Linked DNA regions of Homo sapiens: region 1 is linked to region 2. Evidence: fine-mapped expression QTL. A gene starts in region 2. The other region holds a variant in brackets. All regions are shown on one strand. Distances are between the middles of the regions.

The links. PIP is the estimated chance that this variant, and not a neighbour inherited with it, causes the effect. A credible set is the group of variants that fine-mapping cannot tell apart.
Region 1: its variant is the best candidate, but not a certain one, in a credible set for the expression of PBK in fibroblasts (GTEx, PIP 0.61).

What each region holds. Positions count from the first base shown.
Region 1 is chr8:27,882,329-27,886,718 of GRCh38, forward strand. The region is part of intron 7 of SCARA5 (scavenger receptor class A member 5); the gene reads right to left. MIR4287 (microRNA 4287) reads right to left here and starts at 3,788; the gene lies at 3,711-3,788. The variant G/T (reference allele first, on the strand shown) is at 2,096.
Region 2 is chr8:27,835,835-27,840,224 of GRCh38, forward strand. PBK (PDZ binding kinase) reads right to left here and starts at 1,983. Exons shown (of 8, transcript NM_018492.4): 1 at 1,818-1,983. It also overlaps the pseudogene LOC100130612. RefSeq lists enhancers at 2,093-2,152, 2,223-2,272.

The sequences.
Region 1 (4,390 bases), 46 kb after region 2:
CTGGATGAATAAAGCTGCTATAAATATCCATGTGCAGGTTTTCATGTGGATGTCAGTTTCAGCTCATTTGGGTAAATATCAAGGAGTGTGATTACCAGATTTCTCTCCACTGTTTGAGACCCGGTGACCAGCAGCCTTGCCTGCTAGGGAGGAGGGTGTAGGAGAAATAGGAAGCCAAGGATGGTTAAGACTTTGTGGGCAGGTAGCATGGCTGTGTCCCGGGAAGTGTCTCAGCCCTGATTTGGTCATTCATGTTCACTTTCCCACTAGGCTGTGAGTGTGAAAGTGCTTTAAGCCAGAGAGAGCCAGTTGGGAATTCTGGTTCTGCCACTTACTATCTGCAACTGTGAGACACATTGGTTCATCAAATCTGAGATGCCACCTGTTGTAATGGGCGCCTGTTTTATATGCCACTAAGAAGGAAAAATCTCTGCTGGGTAGGTGGCAAATTATATCAAGTGCCAGGTGCTTCCTGATTTCACAGACATATAAATGTGTGTCACAGAATCAATGAAACATGGTAATAGATGTGAAGAACTCAGAATAGCACCTGGCACATAATAGGCCCTTTCGACCTGAATGACCTTAAGGTAGCCTCACAACCTCTCTAAAGGCATTTCCCCAACTGCGACATGGGAACAACATCTACACTGCAGGACTGTCATGCAAACAAAATGCAACAAAGCTAAAAGGGCTCTGGGGCACAATCCTGGCCCATGGAAACATCAGCAATGTGGGTCTGTTCCCCCTTCTCTGAGGGCTGAGCCCCTGTCACATTGATCTCTAAACTCAGTGCTTGGCACACAGCCTGGCTGGAGGAAATGAAAAATCAATGTTTGCAGAATGTAGTAGAGAGCCATTCCTGAGCATTACAATGCATTGGTTCTCCAAGGGGAAATGTTGGGGACCCAAAGAACACCAGAGCAACTGAAAGAAGCCTTTGGATCATCACAAAGCCAGGGTTTGGCTGGGAAGTCATAGTCTCAGGGTGAAACACATGGTCAGTGCCAGAGCTGGGATCACAGCTTGCGTTTCCTTATGTGTCTTCCCACATCCTTTTCACCATCCTGCCCGCCCCACTACTCTTGGGGGCTATTTCCCCTGCTGGGACCTGAGCATCCTCACTTGATAAGATACTGGAGTGGTCAGTGGGTCTTATCAAAATCATTAGGAACACCAGATTCCACGGCCAATCCAGACCTACTGAAAGAGAATCTTGGTGGCAAGAGTGAGGGATCTCTATTTTTCCAAGTGTCCCAAATAATTCAGAACAATTGGTTTGTGGGCTGTGGACTGGCATTTAGATTAGAGGGTCAATCAGCAAGGTTCCTTCTAGCTCCAACCCTCAGTAATCCAAGGCCAGAGAAGAAATCAGGGTCATCTCTTTTTAAAGCCAGAATCCACTGGTGTCATGTGGGGTAGGGGTGGACATTGTACTGGAACCCAGTGACAAGTGGGTGACACAATGCAGGAAAATGCCCATGTGAACTGCCAGAGAAAATAACAAACCTACTCAAGCCCTGCTACTAATAAGCGCGGCACTCCTGGACTTTTGTTTTTCCTTTATCTTGTATTTGGCCAAGTGGGCTGGAAGGAGCCTCCTTTTAATGACTGTGACTTGGCAAAGACTTTCATAGGTCCCGAAGGAGATGGCAGAATTGACATCTGTGCCCCATGAGAAAGGAGAGAACTCAGAACTGGCCACATGCCTGGGCCAAGAAAACCCCAGAAAATTCTGCAGAGGAACCGAGGAAGCCACCAGGAAGCGACCCCAACCCCAGGAATGATGCTAAAGACTACAGCGAGAGCACCAGGGATGCCTCCTCTCGATATTGGATGTATTTGCTGCGGATCCTTCATCCCTGGCCAGGTGACCGTTCTCCCCACACAGACTGCAAATACAAACTCATTCAGGCTGTCCCCAAACAGGCTGAGGCTATGCAAGACAACAGAGAGATCCTGGAGAAGAAAAACATGGAGAAGAGCTGGAATTCAGAGGCTGGGTCTGACACCAAGAAACTCCCCGGGAGCAGTAAGGACAGGCTAACCTGCAGCCAGCAGCACCAAGAGGGACCCGGCCGCTGCGCGGGGCCTT[G/T]GCCCTGGGTTGGCTGAGGCCAGGCTGTCAGCCCTGGTTTCTCACAGACCTGCCTCACCTCTGGCTGCACCAGGAGGCCTGCAACAGAAGCCACAGTGTGGGGTCAGCAAGTAGGGCAAGAAGTGGCAGGAGGGTGCTGTGAGTCACAGAGCAGGCCAGGCAGAAGTCAGGTGTGGGGTCAAAACAACAGGAAGAGTGTGACTGGGTGTGACTAGGCAGCCAAGGTAGACGGTCGGAGACTCCCTGACTTAGCCTCTCTGTTCTGGCCAGCCTGAACTCACTTTGTGCACCTACTCGTTTAGCCAAGTAAGTGACTGAGAGTCTATCAGACAGCTGTGGATACACCCACAAACAGAGTCCCTGCCCTCATGGAGCTGACATTCTAGGGAGAGTCTAGCAATACAGCTAGTCAACAAAAACAAAACCATAATTATAGCCAAGCGGTGATAAGAGCATAGATGGGAACAGAAGCACAGGGAGTACAGAGTGAGGCAGGCACTATTGTGGGCAAGTGAACAAAGGAGTGGAGAGTGAGGGCAGGCGCCATCTTGGACAAGTGGAGGAGGGAGGAAATGAGAGACAGGGCAGGCACCATCTTGGCCGGGTGGACAAGGAAGGAAATGAGAGAGAGGGCAGACACCATCTTGGCCGAGTGGACAAGGAAGGAAATGAGAGAGAGGGCAGGCACCATCTTGGACAGGTGGACAAGGGAGGGAATGAGAGGGCAGGTACTGTCTTGGACAAGTGAACAAGGAAGAGGGTGGGGAGTGAGAGCAGGTGCCATTTTGGACGAGTAGAGAAGGAAGGCCTTGAGTGGAGACCTGAATGAGCTGAGGAAGGACGTGGACTCCCCCACCTCAGAAAACTCCTTTCTGTACTCTGGCCTAAGCTTTCCTTGTCTTTTAGATCTCAGCTTAGATGCCTCTTCTCCTTCCCTGGTCCCCACACCCAACAGGGCCCCTTCTAGGTACATGCTTATAGCTTTGTGTCATAATTGCTATTGCTATTTACTCTCTTAGGACACTGTGAGCCTTCTGAGGATCACGTGACCTGGTACAGGGCCCGGTGCACTGAGATACCCAGCCTGTGCAAAGGGAAGGCATGCATGAATGGAGGGACTCATTAATATGGACCCAGATGGGCAGGTGCTGGCTGGAGGGCATGGCTCCCCAGAGTCCAGGGCTTTGGTGGCAACCTGAATGGAGAATCCAACATCAGGGCCCCAAATCTCCAGCATCCTCTTTATTACATCACAACACTTCTAATCACATACTTGCTGCCTTCTCTACTTGAGATGACTCTGGATTCTGGACCCAGAGCTCAGGCTGTTACAATGACCGTACATCTCAAGTGAGAGAATGGGGACATGGCTGTCAGATGATCATGGTGGGTGCAATGGGAAGTCTGGAAAATGTCATTTGGATGCTGAAATACTGAAATTCCCAAGAGGTTTCAATGTATATAGAAGTGATAGAAGAATATTTGGAAACAAGACACCTTCAAAAAATTGAAAACATATGATAACCATAATCACGGGATGCAAAGCATCAATTTCAAGGATGTCTCTGGCCCATGGCCCATGCTTACCATGCATTGAGCAAAGTCATGGCCTGCAGGGCTCCTATGGTCTCCCCAGTAGGGACCACATTGATCTCAGGAACTGAAAAGTGCCCTCAAGGGAGAAAAAGAACTAGAGAGCACCTGGGCGAGGCTGCACAAGGCACCACTCCACCCAGACCCCAGTGTCGGTTCATTAAGCATGGAGGCCTGTTCCTCACCACCTGTCCCCAGATCCCCTAGACTCAGGGCTTCCCCCCATGGTGGAGGGCCGCCTGCCCACAGGGTCAACAGATGCTGCCTGCCCCAGCAGGGTCAACACAAATCTGAAAGCCACACCTTCTCCCCTGGACTCACCCAAATCAGAGGCCACATTTTGTTGTAGCTCCACTTCACAGAGCATGGCCCTAAGCTGTGGATTTTGCATCCTTTTCTCCCCACCCAACAAAATCTCAGCTCTGTTACCACCTCTCTGGGAAACCACAGGCTGAGGTCTGACTTGCTTATGATGTAGGCTGCCCTGATTCAGGAACTCAGAGTCTAAATTCAGAAACTTGTGTCTCTGGCCTCCTTTACCCCTGAAGAGGTATAGGGGAGGCAGGCAGGCAGGAGCCTTTCCCAGAGCTGAGCAATGAGGCCACCTCCAGCAACACACTTGGGGAATCACCAACGCCCTCCAACAGTGACTACCCTCTAGCCTGAGAAGGACGTCATCATTTAAGAGGTTTGGGTTTCTGT
Region 2 (4,390 bases):
CACCACATCCAGCTTCTTCTAAGATTTCTATCTACCTATGTGAAGCTACTCTTCATTCACTCAGTCAATATGCACACACTGAGCACATACAATGTGCTCTAACAGTGCACTGTTCGAGCACATACCATGTGCTCTAACAGTGCACTGTTCTACACTCTGGAAATAGAGCAGCAAACAAGACCCAAACAAGTATGAAGATAAACATATACTATTTCAGGGGAAATATATATCAGTGAAGGGAGCAGAAGGCCTTGGGAAGGGGCTTAATATTTGAGTTTAAAGTGGTCAAGAAAGGTCTCCTTGAGAAACTCATTTGAAGGAAGTGAGGGAGCAGGCCCAAGCAAGTATCTAGTGAAAGTCTTCCAGAGAGAGGACAAGAAATACAAAGACCTGAGGCAGAAATCTTCACGAAGAGGCGAGCTAGCAAGGGGGAGAATGAGACAAAGTCAGGGAGGCTGAGGGTAGGGACTGGCAAGTCAAGTAGAGCATTGTAGCCACAGGACTGTGACTTCTACTCAACTGTAGTCACAGTCAAGATTTCAGCTTGTACTGAGAAACAGAAAGCTGTTGGAGAGTTTTGTGGAGGAGTCAAATAGGTGGGTGGATACGGATCTAGAATGCAAGCTGAAGATTTAAGTTTGTGGGATGGCAGCACGCAGACGTTATTAAAGCCAAGAGACTAGGTAAGATCATCTAGGGAGTAACTGTAGAGAGAAGAGGGGTGAGCCCTAGGGCATCCAAGCATGAGAAATGAAAAACAAAGCAACCAAGGAGGTGCCAACAAAGTAGGATGCAGAAAACCCTGGCGCGTAGAGTGTCCTGGAAATCTTATGATGAGCCTTATGAGTCTCACTGCCTTTTCCCGCTCACTCTACGGAGGATTTGATATTCAGAAGCAGCACGTTTTAAAAAAGAAAACCTATCTCTAAAAACAACTAGGTTTAAACAGAAGTCGTAACATTTCATTATGTTCTCTTACGACTGAGTCCCACCTTCTACTCTAAGCTATTTGCACCTCAATGTACCATGTCCTATCCATTTCACAGTTGTCTGAGGGCCACTTTTTTCCAGACTGCACACTCAGGTTTAGGCATTAACTGCTGACAGATAGCTTTTGGCCAGTAGCCCAGACTCTGCTTCAGATTATGTTATGTATTGTATATGCATTCTTAACATTAATTGTTAAATAACCATACTAATTCTAAATCACAAGGTTCTCATGAAGATGACAGCAAAAAAAACAGTGAATATTTAGATGAAGATAAATTAGAAATGGCAGTAGGATGACCGTGAGCAGAATTTCATACTCTGTGGAATACGTAAGATATTTTTAACAATCAAGTACTGTTTAAGAGGCAGCATTAAAGTGAGCAGCGCTCAAGCAAGCTAATCTACAGATTTACCGGGTCAAACGTCAGTGACCTTTGGGCCCTAAGCCTGGGACCCTGGGACTCAACAAATACCTGGACACTACTGACAAAGCTACGACGCGGACGGGCAGCAGAAAACGGAAAATTAAAAGAATGAGAGAAAAAGTAAAGGAGAAAAGAGAAACAAAGTAGATGTAGAAACTCCAAGGGGAAGCAAAGAGAAAGTGTGGGCCGCATGACTCTCAGGTCCTCTGCATCTCACACGCTCAGCAGGGTTCGGGGGTGGAGGTCAGACTGTTTACCCCAATCCAGGGGCTCACAAGGGGCTGGCTGCCAAAATCCTTCTTTGGCTGTAACCAGATCCTCCCCTGTCACGAAAGCCCCCGCAGAGGCCTCGGCTCCGGGCTCGGCCCCCGCCAGGGCTCGCAAAAAAAAAGCTCCTCTTACCAGAGTCTCACCGCCTGGAAGGAAAGGTCGGAGGTGAAAATAAGTCGTGGCCAAGTACCTCTTCAAAATTGGTCCCGAGCGGCCCCCAGCGAGACCCTGCAGCTGCCTCTAGCACCAACACATACGCCCGGCAGCTGCCGTTGCAATTCGAACCCTCCTGGCTTTCAAAAAGTCGCGCGCTGCGCCAGCTTCGGCCCCGAGCTACGGGGCGGCGTGAAGGACACGCCCCGCCGATTCGCCGTTCCTCCTCCCTCTCCCAGGACTCCCGGTGCCCGCAGGCGCCAAAGACGAGGGAAGGAAGGAAAGGCGCGGGGAGCACAAACTTTTACAGGAACCACCAGCCCTTCCGAGGAGCACAGCCCGGTGAATAGAACACAGTTGCCTGTGCTGAAGGCTGAAGCTCTCTCCAAACGCTCACATCTGTGTTGAATGTGTCGTGATTATGACGTCAATTTTATTATAGGTTTATGAGGCCTTGAAACACTGTAAAGACAAATGCGTAGCTTAAGGAACAATCATCTTTAGCCGAGGGAAAAAAAAGATATTTAGAAATGTTGCTAACTCATGTAATTGCCACATTCAATTCAACATTCTTTAATTTATTCAACGATTATTTAGGAACATCTGCTCCCCAGGAGGGGATGGGCCGTGGGGCAGACCAGGGGCCCAGAGCTCAGGGCAGGGGGTACCGCTTGTGGGGCCGCTCATTTCTGTTTCGAGGTACACCAAGGGTTAGAAAAACCACAGTAAGCAAAGAACTTGCATCAAGATCGGGACTGGAATCCATTAATGTAGGTGACAAAGCCCCGCAACTCTGATCAGGGCTTCTCCCCAGGAAGATGTGCCCTGAGGCATCCCCCGAGGATGGCGCAGGTCCTGAGGGTCGTGGGGATCAAAGAATATGAGCCAAGACGTATAAATCACATGTTGGAGTTTGCCTTCCCCTATGTGACCACAGTTCTGGATGATGCAAAAATTTACTCAAGCCATGCTAAGAAAGCTACTGGTGTGCAATTGCAATCCAGTGTGCGCCGACCAGTTTTTTTTTACCTCTCCGCCCCAAGAGATTTTTATTAGATATTGCAAGGCAAAGAAATCAAACCCCTTCGCCTTTGATCAAGCCGTATTCAAGTCCTAGAATGCCACCCAATAGATATTGCTTAACAGCTCCAAACTATATGTTGCAGGGAAAACCCCAAAACTAGGGTACAGCCACAGAGGCCACCTGGCTTGGAGCAGGAAGGAATTCGAGAGCAGCCCCATAGAGTAAAATGAGAGCAAGTTTATTAAGAAAGTAAAGGAATAAGAGTGGCTACTCCACAGGCAGAGCAGCCTGGAGGGCTGCAGATGGGCTATTTTTACCGTTATTTCTTGATCATATGCTAGATAGAGGATGGATTATTCATGAGTTTTACAAGAAGGCCCTGGGGATTTTCTGGAACTGAGGGTTCCTCCTCCTTTTAGACCATGTAGGGTAATAAGTTCCCCGGGTTGCCATAGCATTTGTAAACCGTCATGGCACTCAGGGGGAGTGTCTTTCGGCAGCTAAATCATTATAATTAGCCTGTAATGAGCAGTGAGGATGACCAGAGGTCATCCACTAGTGGATTTCAGTCTCAATCTTGATCCGGGTTCTTTGCCTGGAGTGGTTTTTCCAACCCTGGTGTGCCAGGAAAGGGAACGCTGAGTGGCCCCCTATGGGGTGCCCTCTTGGTTTTGGTGGGTTTGGGCCACCCTCTTTACTGCATCTGTTTTATCAGTGGGGGTCTTTGTGACCTCTATCTTGTGAAATCAGTCCTGCCAAACTTCTGTCTCATACATACAGGCTTAAGTCTTTACAGAAAAAGGCATCTACGTCTGAGGGAAGAATAACAGTCCCCATGATATCAGTGGGCCAGGGGAGGTCCTCAAATGCCGGTGGGTCCTGGACCCCCGCAGGTGTCCAGACTCTTGACACCGTCTTGAGAATGGATTCAAGGATGAGTTGGAAAATAGTGAAAGTATGGAGATTTGTTGCAAAGGGAAAAAGTACACACTTAAGAAAGGGGATTGCGGGCGTACTCAAGAGAGTCACACAGTGGGGTGTGCGGTTTCTCTCTGTATGGGTTTCTTCAACCAAGGGGTGGAATATTTATGACAATTCTTGGAAAAAGATGGAGATTTCTTGGAACTGTGGTGCCACTCGTTTTTACACCAAATATGGGTGTTCCCAGAACTGTCATTGCGCTGGTGGGTGTGATTTAGTGTGTTAATGAGCATATAATGAGGTCCTAGGTGAAACCTAGGTCAAATCCAGCACCACTTTGGGTCTAGTTGGTCTTAGCCAGCTTGGTGCACACCCTGTTTTTCAGGGGTTCATCAGCCCATAACCCCTACTCATGGGAAACTGCTGTCTGGAGTTTTTATTCTCCTGTGAACACCCTGCATTATTTCTGTCTCACCCAGATTAAATGTTGGTTCAGTTACTAGCCGACCAGGTGTTCACACACTAGGCACACCACCCCCCAAACCATGTTTGTGGCAACTAAAGTAAGGACTCAAATGTCCCTCACAAGGCAAAGGTTTACAGTGTA